Regions from separate parts of the Homo sapiens genome. Here all the other regions are linked to region 2. The links come from fine-mapping of genetic effects on gene expression. A gene starts in region 2. Each other region holds a variant in brackets. All regions are shown on one strand. Distances are from middle to middle. Region 1 has its middle 4.0 kb from the start of JAK3. Region 2 holds the start of SLC5A5 (solute carrier family 5 member 5). Region 3 has its middle 23 kb from the start of CCDC124.

Region 1 (4,233 bases), 20 kb after region 2:
CCTGTCTTTTTCCCAGGGACTTTGAAGGCACCAGTTTGTTCATCCAGGATCCTGGGCCAAGCCACAGCTTGGATCACGGAGCGTTCACAATGCTGATGTGCCTCATCCTTCCCACTCTTTCCCTCATCTCAGTTACTGGCACCAGTGCCTTCCCAAGGCTGGGCCCAAGACACCCAAATCTTGGTTTCTGACCGTTGGTCCTCAAAACACTGCAAAGCCACCCACTTGTATGCACTCCGGACTCCAGGTCCCTGGCCTTCTTTTTTTTTTTTTTTTTTTTTTGAGATGTAGCCTCTTTCCTGTCACGCAACCTTGAGTGCAATGCAGTGGCGCGATCTCAGCTCACTGCAACCTCCACCTCCCGAGTTCAAGCGATTCTCCTTCCTCAGCCTCCAGAGTAGCTGAGATTACAGGCGTGCGCCACCACACCCAGCTAATTTTTGTATTTTTAGCAGAGACGGGGTTTTACCATGTTGGCCAGGCTGGTCTTGAACTCCTGACCTGAGGTGATCCACCCACCTTGGCCTCCCGAAGTGCTAAGATTACAGGCATGAGCCACTGCACCCGGCCTTTTTTTTTTTTTTTTTTTTTTTTGAGACAGAGTTTTGCTCTTGTTGCCTAGGCTGGAGTGCAATGGTGTGATCTCGGCTTACCGCAGCCTCCACCTCCTGGGTTCAAGCGATTCTCCCACCTCAGCCTCCCAAGTAGCTGGAATTACAGGCATGCACCACCACATCCAGCTAATTTTGTTTTGTCAGTGGAGATGGGGTTTCTCCACGTTGATCAGGCTGGCCTCAAACTCCTGACCTGGGACTACAGGTGTGCACCACCATGCCCAGCTAATTTTTGTGTTTTTTTTGGTAGAGGTGGTGTTTCGCCACATTGCCCAGGCTGGTCTCAAACACAAGTTGTTTGTCAGAGACCAGCCTGCAATTCTCCCAGGGTGCTGGGATTACAGGCGTGAGCTACCATGCCCAGCCTAGGGGCCTCTTTTATAAGGGCATTAATCCCATTCATGAGAGCTCAACCCTCATGATCTAATCACCTCTTAAAAGGTTCCGATTCTGAATACCACCGCCTTCGAGGTTAGGATTTCAATGTATTAATTTTGGGGAGACGCAAACTCTCAGACCATCACAGTATTTTATCTTTTTCAGTGCTGCTGCAAAGGAAATTTTTCAAAATTTTTTTATGTTCCAATTGTTTGCTGCTGGTGTATAAAAATTCAATTGACTTTTGTATTGAATTCAACGGACTTTTTAAACCTGGTAACTTGCTGAATTTATGTATTAATTTCAGTAGTTGTCTTATAGATTCCCTTGGGTTTTTGACATAAACAATCATATCATCAGCAAATAGCAACAGTTTTATTTACCTTTTTTTTATTACTTATTTTATTCTGTTTTGCTTGTTACAGAATCTTGCTATGTTGCCTTTAAATTCTTGGGCTCCCATTTCAGCTTCTCCAGTAGCTGAGGCTACAAGCATGTATCACCATGCCCAGCCACACCTGACTTGTTTATTTTTCTCATATATTTTTTTGTTTTAAGACAGGATCTCGCTCTGTTGCCCAGACTGGAGTGTAATGGTGTGATGATGGCTTACTGCAGCCTTGTCCTCCCTGACTCAAGCAATCCTCAGCCTCCCAAATAGCTGGGACAACAGGTGTGAGCTATCACACCCTGCCAATTTTTAATTTTTTTTTTTTTTTTGAGACAGAGTCTCCCTCTGTCACCTAGGCTGGAGTGCAGTGGCGCGATCTTGGCTCACTGCAACCTTCACCTCCCGGGTTCAAGCGATTCTCCTGCCTCAGCCTCCTGAGTAGCTGGGATTACAGGCGCGCATCACCACGCACGGCTAATTTTTGTATTTTTACCATGCCTGGCTAATTTTTGTATTTTTAGTAGAGATGGGGTTTCACCATGTTGATCAGGCTGGTCTTGAACTCCTGACCTTGTGATTCTCCCACCTCAGCCTCCCAAAGTGCTGGGATTACAGGCGTGAGCCACCATGCCCAGCTTTTCTTTTCTTTCTTTCTTTTTTTTTTTTTTTAGACGGAGTCTCACTCTGTCACCCAGGCTGGAGTGCAGTGGCCCGATCTTGGCTCACTGCAAGCTCCGCCTCCCTGGTTCACACCATTCTCCTGCCTCAGCCTGCTTTTTCTTTTCTTATTACAGTGGCTAACATCACCAGAACAATGTTGAATAGAGGTGGTGAAAATGGACATCCTTGTCTTGTTTCCAATCTCAGGAGGAAGTTATTCAGTCTTTTACCATTTTTGTTTTTGTTTTTGAGATGTAGTCTCGCTCTGTCGCCCAGGCTGGAGTACAGTGGCACTATCTTGGCTCCCTGCAACCTCTGCCTCCTGGACTCAAGCCATCCTCCCACTTCAGTCTTCCAAGTAGCTGAGACTACAGGTGCACACCACCATGCCTGGCTAATTTTTGTATGTTTTGTAGAGACGGATCTCACCATGT[T/C]GCCCAGGCTAATCTCCAACTCCTGAGCTCAAATGATCCTCCCATGTTGACTTCCCAAAGTGCTCAGATTACAGGCATGAGCCACCGTGCCTGGCCCTGCCTCACTGTACTCTTAATTTTCATTTGGCAAGTGAAGCTGAGGAAATTTTTCTGGGTTTAAGAGCTATTTGTCCTCCATTTTCTCTGACTTCTGGATTCATATCCACCTAACTGGTTGGCATTTTCTTACTGCTTTCTAGATGTTACTTATATAACGAGGATATTTTATCCATGAGTTCAATTTTGTTTCCAGTTACACTTTGATTGTATTTTATTCTTTGATTGTATTTATGGACTTCTTGTCAGCAGAAAAATCTGGGTGTTTGCATCACTGACGTGCCCCATTTTTCTCGGGCAAGTTCTGGGTTCTGTCCCCAGAACTTCCTTTTTTTAAAAAAAATTATTTATTTATTTATTTATTTTTTGATACGGAGTCTTGCTGTGTCGCCCAGGCTGGAGTGCAGTTGTGCGATCTCGGCTCACTGCAACCTCCGCCTCCCAGGTTCAAGTGATTCTCTTGCCTCAGCCTCCTGAGTAGCTGGGACTGCAGGCGCCCGCCACCACACCCAGCTGCGTTTTGTATTTTTAGTAGAGATGGGGTTTCACCAGGTTGGCAAGGCCGGTCTCGAACTCCTAACCTCAGGCGATCCGCCCGCCTCGGCCTCCCAAAGTGCTGGGATTATAGGCGTGAGCCACCGCGCCCGGCCAGAACTTCCTTTTAGAGCCTTCACATGCCCTTCTCTGGGGCTGAAGGTACCACTTTGGTCCTCACCCCAATCTCCTCTTACTTATTCTCAAAATATTGCAGAAACCATCACACTGGAGGTAGCAGAGACCCAGAAACTCACTGTACTTCCGGAAAGCAGAGGCTTCAGCCTCAGGCCAAGGATGAGAACATAAGGTTGCATTCCCGTCTGCTGAAGCCACCCAGGAAGTGAAAGAAAACACTACAACTAAGCTTCTGCTTGGCACTTCCTGCCGCAGGTCAGCTGTGGCTCCACTAAGCTCCACTAAGCTGAGGACATAATCTATATCTCTTTCCCTTGACCCACGCGGCCCTACCCACGCCATCAAATGAGTCTCAGCCCCCCGTGTCCCTGACATCCTGCTCTTCTCAGGAACACTGTGAATTCGTGAAGCCTCCAGGCCTTTGCCTGGGCTGTTCTGCCTGCCAGAACTGCCCACACTCCCACATTCTCAGGTCACTCTCTGGCTAGTCCCACTTGTTGTTGGATTTCAGAATCAAAGCCACCTCCTCCAGGAAGCCCTCCCAGATCCAGTCATCTCTCTTAGCAGACCGGTCCCAGGGGCAACTGATATAATTATTGGGCAATAGCTTGTTTATTGCCATCTCCCCTGCTGGACTGTCAGCTCCCCTGGACAGGGATTGGGTCTGCATTGTCCCCGATTCCCTGCACACAGGCTGTGTCCAATAAGCCTCTGGCTGATTGAACAGTTAAGATCAACAAAATACTTACCAAACCATTTTGTGTTAAGACTTGTGATGGTGATACAGAGATGAAAAGTCTTTTTTTTTTTTTTTTTGAGACGGGATCTCACTCCCATTGCCCAGGCTGGAGTGCAGTGGCATGACCACAGCTAACTGCAGCCTCAACTTCCTGGGCTCAGGTGATCCTCCCACCTCAGCCTCCCCTAGTAGCTGGGACTACAGGCACATGCCACCACATCCAGCTTATTATTTTGTTGTTGTTGTATT
Region 2 (4,233 bases):
ACGATGCCGGTGTACAGCATCTGTAGACAGAGTGTGGGGCGGGTGAGCAGGGAGGGCGTCTGGGCGAGTTGGGGATGGGGAGAGGAGGCAGAAGGGTGGTCCCAGAATATGGGCGGGGCAGATAGGCCGGGTCTTCCAGAGTGCAGGCGGGGTCAGGCCGGCTGTGGTGTGGGAGGGGACTGATGGGGGCGGGGTCAGAACGGGAGCATGGGGGGCGGGGTCTGGGCGGGGTCTTGAATGGTGGGGGCCGGGCTAGTGAAGGCTGACGCTCTCGGGGCCCTGAGCGGAGGGCGGGGCCGAGGCCACTCACCGTGGCTACAATGTACTGCAAAGTCCCGCAGAGCCGCACTGCGCGGCTGAAGCGCATCTCCAGGTACTGCAAGGAGGGACTCGAGGTCACCTGGACAGTCCTTACCCAGGAGCCGAGGCCTCTCGGGTCCCTGGTCTGCTCTCTAGGTGGGCCCCTCCCTCCGGAAGCCAACCGCGCCCGCCAGATTCTTGCACGTGGGGGCCCCGCCGCACGCACACACCCGTGCACAGGTGCCATCCCGTGCCTGTGCGTACCCCGTGGACCTGGAGGACTGGTCCATGCGTGTGCACGCGCCCTCCCACTTGCGCCTGACGGGCGCGGGCTCCTGGAGCAGCCACCGCTCAGCAGACACCGACGTGGCCCGCAAGCGCACAGTGTAGACAGTGCCCCGGGCCAATGGTGTTGGCCGCCTAGGATATACCTGTCACGATTTTTTTGGGGGGGAGGGGGGACGGAGTCTCGCTCTGTCGCCCAGGCTAGGGTGCACTGGCACGATCTCGGCTCACTGCAACCTCCGCCTCCCAGGTTCAAGCAATTCTTCTGCCTCAGCCTCCTGAGTAGCTGGGATTACAGGCGCGCGCGACCATGCCCGGCTAATTTTTGTATTTTTAGTAAAGACGGGGTTTCACCATGTTAGCCAGGCTGGTCTTGAACTCCTGACCTCGTGATCCACCCACCTCGGCCTCCCAAAGTGCTGGGATTACAGGCGTGAGCCACTGCGCCCTGCCACAATATTTTTTTTTCCTTTGAGACAAGAGTCTCGCTCTGTCGCCCAGGCTGGAGTGCAGTGACGCGATATCGGCTCACTGCAACCTCCCGGGTTCAAGCAATTCTCCTGTCTTAGCCTCCCAAGTAGCTGGGATTACAGGTGCCCACCACCACATCCGGCTAATTTTTGTATTTTTAGTAGAGACGGGGTTTCGCCATGTTGGCCAGGCTGGTCTTGAACTCCTGACCTCAGGTGATCTGCATGCTTTGGCCTCCCAAAGTGCTGGGATTACAGGCGTGAGCCACCGCACCGGGCCCCGGTCACGATTTTAATCGCTTTACCCTCTCCCCTGGAGGGAGGTCCTGTAATTCGCCCATTGGACAGCTGGGAAACCCAAACAGAGAGGCACGCCCCTTGCCCAAGATACAAGAAAGCAGTGAAGCCAGGTTTCGAACCCCGGAGCCGTCAGCAGTCCCCTCTAGCGCGCACACGTGGGTCTGCACGCCCGGGCAGGTGGGGGGCAGGTGTGTGTCCACCCGTGAGGACACACCTGGTCGAGCCGGGCCCCGCCCCGCGCGCGCTTCCACCGAAGGAGCAGGACGCCAGGCTCTCTCTTCCTCCTTCCTGCCCCTCGCCGGGCGCCTGGGGCCTCTTCCTAGAACCCTCCCCACGTGTCTGCCTAGGGGCCCCTTCCGTTAAAGCACCGAGGTGCCATCCGCGTCCTCCTGTACAGCGGCCCAAAGCCCCAGCGCCTCCCCCACACGGGGTCCCAGCACTGCCAGTGGGGCAGGTCCTACCCCCGGGCCTCTGTCCGGTACCTCGTAGGTGCTGGTGAGGCCCAGGCGGTAGAAGACGGGCATGAAGAGCAGGGCGGTGAGGACCGAGTTCAGAAGCTGGCCCAGGCACATCCAGAGGAACTTGAGGCCATAGCGATAGGCCTCCGACGGCACGCCCAGCACCTGCACGGCCGACATGAAGCTGGCAGACAGCGACAGGCCCACGGGCAGGGCCGCCAGGCGCCGGCCCCCGGTGAAGAAGTCCTCAGCGCTGCGCTGCCCGCCCCGAGCCAGCCCGACCCACAGCCCGATGCCAGTGGACACCAGGAGCATGAGGGCAAAGACCCCGTAGTCCCAGGCTCCGAAGGTGGGCCGTTCCCCGGTCTCCACGGCCTCCATGAGGGCGGGTGCGGAGGCCCAGCGCGTCCTCGGACGCCCTGCGTGCTCAAGCGGGGGAAGCTGGCAGGGGCCGAGGAGGCAGGACGGGGAGGGCGGGTGGGAGGATGCTCGGCAGCCTGTCCCCGCTCCGTCTGGGGTGGGAAGCGGCGAGAGGGGCCGGGGCTCCCTGGGTTAGGAATCTATGGGCTGTCGATGTCCGTGTCGGCCTCCCTGTCCCCGCTGTCTGTCTCTGCGTCCGCCCCTGCTGTCTGTCTGTCCTGCCACCTCCCCTCTCACTCTGGGTTCCGCTGTCCCATGCAGCCGGCTGTCTGTCCCTCTCCCTGGGCGCTGTGCTCAGCGCTGACAGCTGGAGGTCGCCTTGGGGCTTACGGGAGCAGCTCGTGATTGTGGGTTGCAGATTTATTGGGCTCCCGGGTCACCGCGACTCCGCCTCCAGACCTAGGGGCGGGCAGGACCCGCACCCTTTCAGCCCTGGACTGGGACAGACAGGCCAGGACAGGCTATCTGGGTGGCTGCAGGGGGTGGTATCGGGGAGGGCTCCCAAATGCCCCTCCATCCCCATGCACCCACCCATCCCCATGCACTGTGATCCCCTGATCACAGCTGTCACTGTCTGCTGTTGACAGGTGGGGAAATTGAGGCTCAGAGAGGGCATGTCACTATCCAAGCCTGCACAGCCTGCTTCAGCACTCAAAGCCGTATTGTGCTTGAATACCTTGAGCTATGGGGAGCTCACTTTCATGCAGGACTGGGGTTCACTTTCAGGGTTTCAGGGGACCCATAAAGAAAACTTACCTGGCTTTACCACCCCCAAACTGGCATGTGGGCCTACCCCCTTTCTCTAGAGCCTTAGGGGGTGGGCATCACTGAACCCCGCTCTTGGGCTAAGCTGGGTGGGAGACATTCAGAGCTCAAGTTCTGAGTGGGTACATACTTGGGGAAGACTTTGCTCCTCCCTGGGCCTTAGTTTCCCCATCTGTAACAAGGATAAAATAGACCCTGCCTCAGAGGAATAAATGGGACGTGGTAACGAAAGCCTGGTACATGATAAGTGCCTCATTCATTTATTCCTTTATTCATTTGTCACTTCATTCATTCATTCATTGGTTCCTTTGCAGATATGCACTGAGAGTTGGCCCTGTGCCAGGCATAAATGGCTCACTGAGGTGGTGCGAGGGGCCTTTAAGGTTATGAACCCGAATAAGCGGAGACCATGACCACCAGGGAGGTAGAGTCTGGCTTGTCCCTATCATATAGATGAGGAAACCAAGGTTGGGTGTGGGAGAAAGTCTACTGGGGGGGTCACGCTTCCATGAGGACCAACGAGCTGTCATCTCAGGGCCCTTCTCTGGGGGACCCAGGAGGACTTTGACCTCTGGAGGTTCTGGTCTCTGGGTTCAAGTCTCAGCTCAGCCTCCAACTTTCTGGGCAATCACGCATCTCAAACTTGGTTCCCTTCTCCATAAGCTGGTGGAATCTGAAATCCTGGGGGTTGAAAGAAACAGCGTCAGAGGCCGGGCATGATGGCTTATGCCTGTAATCCCAGCACTTTGGGAGGCTGAAGTGGGAGGATCATTTGAGTCCCAGAATTCGAGACTACCCTGAGCAACATAGTGAGATCTTGTCTGTATGAAAAATACAAATATTAGCGAGGCGTGGTGGCACATGCCTGTAATCCCAGCTACTCAGGAGGCTGAAGTGGGAGGATCGCTTGAGCGTGGAAGTTCGAGGCTGCAATGAGCTGTGGTCGAGAACTGCACAGCACTCCAGCCTGGGCAGCACAGCAAGACCCCGTCTCCAAAAAAAAAAAAAAAAAAAAAAAAAGGGCTTTTGAGCGCTTCTCGCCAGCCTCTGCTGCTCCCTGGTGGCCTCCTCTGGCCTACCCTCTGCCCTGGCCGCTCCAGCTGGGTCCAGCGTTTCTCAACGCGTCCCCACGTAACCCCCGGACAGTCCTCTTGCTCCCTCTCTGCTGTGCAGGGTGGACCTGTCCCTCCCCCGGGGCTGTGACACTGCGGCGGCTACGCGGGCACCTGTTGCCG
Region 3 (4,233 bases), 37 kb before region 2:
GGCGCACACCTGTAGTCCCAGCTACTCGGTAGGCTGAGGCAGGAGAATCGCTTGAACCCAGGAGGCGGAGGCTGCAGTGAGCTGAGATCGCACCACTGCGCTCCAGCCTGACAACAGAACGAGACTCCGTCTCAAAATAATAATAAATAAATAAATAAATAAATATTTGGTCTTTTGACCCCAGTTCCTGACAGAGTGATGGGAGTGTCTGACATAGAGCTCCTAAATCCCCTAGAGTTTCCTGGGTGATAGGAGCGTCTTTGGTTCTAAAAAGATGACTCTTGGTGGGTTCCTGGGTGGGGACCAACAAGACCAAGCCATCATTAGAAGCTTGGAGCTTTCAGCCCCACCCTCTTTCTCTGGAGACCGGAGAGGGGCTAGGGACTGAGTTAATAATCAATCATGCCTTCATAATGAAGCCCCCATAAAAATCCCCAAAAGATGGGGTTTGAAGAGCTTCCGAGTTGATGAACACATCTGCAGGTTGCAAGGGTGGGGTATCCCACTCTATAGAGACCATTGTGTCTCAAGGCGGGCTGTTTTGTGGGATTGAGCCCTTAACCTGCGGGATCTGATGCTGTGTCCGAGTAGATAGCATCGGAACCAAATTGCATCAGAGGAATCCCAGCTGGTGTCCACTGGAGAATTGCTTACTATGTGGAAAAAATAAAGACAACCCACACATCTGGTGTCAGAAGTGTGGTGTTGAGTGGGATGTGTGTTTTGTTTGTTCCTCTTACATTGTGTTTTGAAATAAAACCAATACTCAGCCGCAAAGCAACCGCATTGGTCACCCTTCTGCAACGATTGTGTTAATGTTTTTCTTGATTTCGTCAAACATGAGAGCCGCAGGGGTCTGCAGATTTTCATAACAAGGCCTCCAGGACAAATTGGCTCTTGAAATTATTTTGTGATTAAAAAGAAAAAAGAAAAGCCAAATTTAAAAAAATAAATTAAAAGAAGATTTAATAAGATTTATATGTATTCAAAAGAAGATTTAGTAAGATTTGTATGTATTCACCAGGAAACATGTTTTATGATTTGTTTTGGAAGGGCAAAAGCAATTTCCACAGTAATGTGAATTTTGTAATCTAATATTCTTTTTTTTTCTTTTTTTAGATTTTTGAGGCAGGGTCTCACTCCCATCACCCAGGCTGAAGTGCAGTAGCATGATCACAACTCACTGCAGCCTCAACTTCCCAGGCTCGGGCGATCCTCCCACCTCAGCCTCCTGTGTAGCTGGGACCACAGGCATGCATCACCATACCAGGCTAATATTTGTATTTTTTGTAGAGATGCAGTTTCACCATGTTGCCCAGGCTGGTCTCAAACTCCTGGGCTCAGATGATCGCCCCACCTCCCAAAGTGGTGGGATTACAGGCGTGAGGCACTGCACCTGGCTCATTTTTCTAAGAAAAAAAAAAATCTTTCTGTCTAGATTTTTTTTTTTCATGTTTGAGGGCTCTGCATTGCTGGGGCAACTGTGGATTTGACCAGCTCCTTGAACAATCCATTGCCAGGTCAGGACTTGGAGAAAGCAACGTGGATGACCCAGAGAGGGGCAGCGACTGGCTGCAGGCCACACAGCAATTTCATCAAGATTCCATCCTTAGGCCAGGAGTGGTGGCTCACGCCTATAATCCCAGCATTTTGGAAGGCCTAGGTGGGCAGATCACTTGAGGTCAGGAGTTCAAGACCAGACTGGCCAACATGGCGAAACCTTGTCTCTACTAAAAATATGAAAATTAGCTGGGTGTGGTGGCGGGTGCCTGTAATCCCAGCTACTCGGGAGGCTGAGGCAGGAGAATCGCTTGAACCCGGGAGACGGAGGTTGCAGTGAGCCAAGAATATGCTACTGCACTCCAGCCTGGGTGACAGAGCAAGAGTCTGTCTCAAAAAAAAAAAAAAAAAAAGATTCCATCTTGGTGGGGTAGGTGGCATGAGGTGAGCTACCTCCTGAGAGCCACCAGTTTTGGGATGATCCTCAATCCCAGCCCGTCTCAGACCTGGCTCTGGGGAGAATAGGATGTAGGGGAGACCTTCCATCCTTGCCGTGCTGTGCCCCAGGTGGGCCTGGAGCCAGCTGCA[C/T]CTGAAGCTGACACAGCCCTGGGCCTCGGTAGGAGGCAAGTGGAGTCATTCCAGTGGAAACTTACCTGCTTCCTGCCTGGTCTTGTCTTCTGCTCCACCTGGCTTCTTGACAACTCTCCCGCTGTACCAGAAAGAATAGGAATTCAGGGCCTCAGTATTGGCTTAAGCTACAGATACCAAGATCAGCAGGGGAGACAGAGACAAGCCTGTGGACCTGAAGGGGAGGGGCCCCACCTCCCAGCCATTTAGGAGAACATTCAACAGGGCTGCAAGACAGGGCTCAGAGGACGAGGAGGAACAGGAGGCAAGGGCACTGCCTGGGGTGCTGGGGTAGGCAGCAGGGTTGCCCAGAGGAAGAGGAGATTCTGGGAGGAGGCCTCTGGAGCTGCTTGGTTGAAGTCACCCAGTTGACCTTATGCAGAAGTTCCAGGATTCCTATGGGAATCGGCTCAGCTGCAGGGTACTGAGCTGCCAGGAAGAGGTCAGGGCTCTTGGTGCATGCAAAAATGCTGAATAAAACATTAGCAAATTGAGTTCAGCTGTGCTTTAAAAGACACTATACTAGGAGTATGCGGGGTCTTATTCCAAAGAGACAAGGAAAGTTCAGCTTTAGAAAGCTTCATTTATTCAATGAAAAGATAAAAGGAGAAAAATTCCACGTGATTATTTCACCATGGAAAAACTTTAGATAACATTCAGAAACCACTTTCCTTTTTTTTTTTTAAGTTCTTAGAATTTTTCTTAAAAGTTCTGATCACCATTGATGGTGATTAGAAAGGAATCACCTGCATCCTGTTAGATGGTAAAACAGAGCCGGGTGCAGTGGTTCATACATGTAATCCCAGCCCTTTGGGAGGCAGAGGCAGGCAGATCACCTGAGGTCAGGAGTTCGAGACCAGCCTGGCCAACATGGTGAAACCCTGCCTCTACTAAAAACACAAAAATTAGTCAGGCGTGGTGGCATGTGCCTGTAATCCCAGCTACTCAGGAGGCTGAGGCAGGAGAATCACTTGAACCTGGGAGGCAGAGGTTGCAGTGAGCTCAGATTGTGCCATTGCACTCTAGCCTGGGTGACATAGCAAGACTCTGTCCCCACCTCCACACACACACAAAACAAAAAAGATGGTAAAACAGGATGTACAACATATTTAAGAATGAGGCAGGAATGCCTCAAATCATGGCTAATATTTCGTGCTTATGTGGAGGTGCTGGACAATGCAATAAGATAAGAAAAAGAATTGAAACCAGATGATATGACCATTTACAGAAAATAAAAAAGAATAAATTAACAAAATGAATAGAACTGAGGAGGACGCTAAAAGCAAGACCAATATAGATTAACCATGGGGGACTATTTATTTATTTATTGAGACAGAGTCTCGCTCTGTCACCCAGGCTGGAATGCAATAGCATGGTCTCAGCTCACTGCAACTTCCACCTCCTGGGTTCCAGCGATCCTTCTGCCTCAGCCTCCCAAGTAGCTGGGACTACAGATGAGCGCCACCACTCCCAGCTAACTTTTGTATTTTTAGTAGAGACAGGGTTTCACCTTATTGGTCAGGCTGGTCTTGAACTCCTGACCTCTTGATTCACCCGCCTCAGCCTCCCAAAGTGCTGGGATTTCAGGCATGAGCCACTGCACCCAGCCAAATACAGGGGATTTTTAGGGCAGTGAAAATATTCAGTATGATAGGTTGTGATGTTGGATACACATCATTGTGCATTTGTCAAAACCAATAGAATACACAACCCAAGAGTGAACCCTAATGTAAAAGGTAGACTTCAGTAATAATAATGTATTAGGCTGGGTGCGGTGGCTCACACCTGTAATCCCAGCACTTTGGGAGGCCGAGGCAGGTGGATCACCTGAGATCAGGAGTTTGAGACCAGACTGACCAACATGGTGAAACCCCGTCTCTACTAAACACACAAAAAATTAGCAGGGCGTGGTGGCACACACCTGTAATCCTAGCTACTTGGGAGGCTAAGGCAGGAGAATTGCCTGAACTCAGGAGGCAGAGGTTGCAGTGAGCTGAGATCATGCCACTGCACTCCAGCCTGGGTGACAGAGCAAAACTCTGTCTCAAATAATAATAATAATAATAATGTATTAATATTTGTTCATCTATTGTAACAAATATACCA

Evidence for each region. PIP is the estimated chance that this variant, and not a neighbour inherited with it, causes the effect.
Region 1: its variant is fine-mapped to the expression of SLC5A5 in whole blood (TOPMed, PIP above 0.99).
Region 3: its variant is fine-mapped to the expression of SLC5A5 in cerebellar hemisphere (GTEx, PIP above 0.99). The same link has a PIP of 0.9 or more in cerebellum.

What each region holds. Positions count from the first base shown.
Region 1 is chr19:17,849,898-17,854,130 of GRCh38, reverse strand. No RefSeq gene overlaps it. Among named protein-coding and RNA genes, the nearest start is that of JAK3, 4.0 kb to the right of the region's middle. The variant T/C (reference allele first, on the strand shown) is at 2,478.
Region 2 is chr19:17,870,281-17,874,513 of GRCh38, reverse strand. It overlaps SLC5A5 (solute carrier family 5 member 5), which reads right to left and starts at 2,569. Exons shown (of 15, transcript NM_000453.3): 1 at 1,838-2,569; 2 at 311-376; 3 at 1-20. The coding sequence starts at 2,194. RefSeq lists a silencer at 105-234 and an enhancer at 27-799.
Region 3 is chr19:17,907,494-17,911,726 of GRCh38, reverse strand. No RefSeq gene overlaps it. Among named protein-coding and RNA genes, the nearest start is that of CCDC124, 23 kb to the left of the region's middle. The variant C/T (reference allele first, on the strand shown) is at 2,089.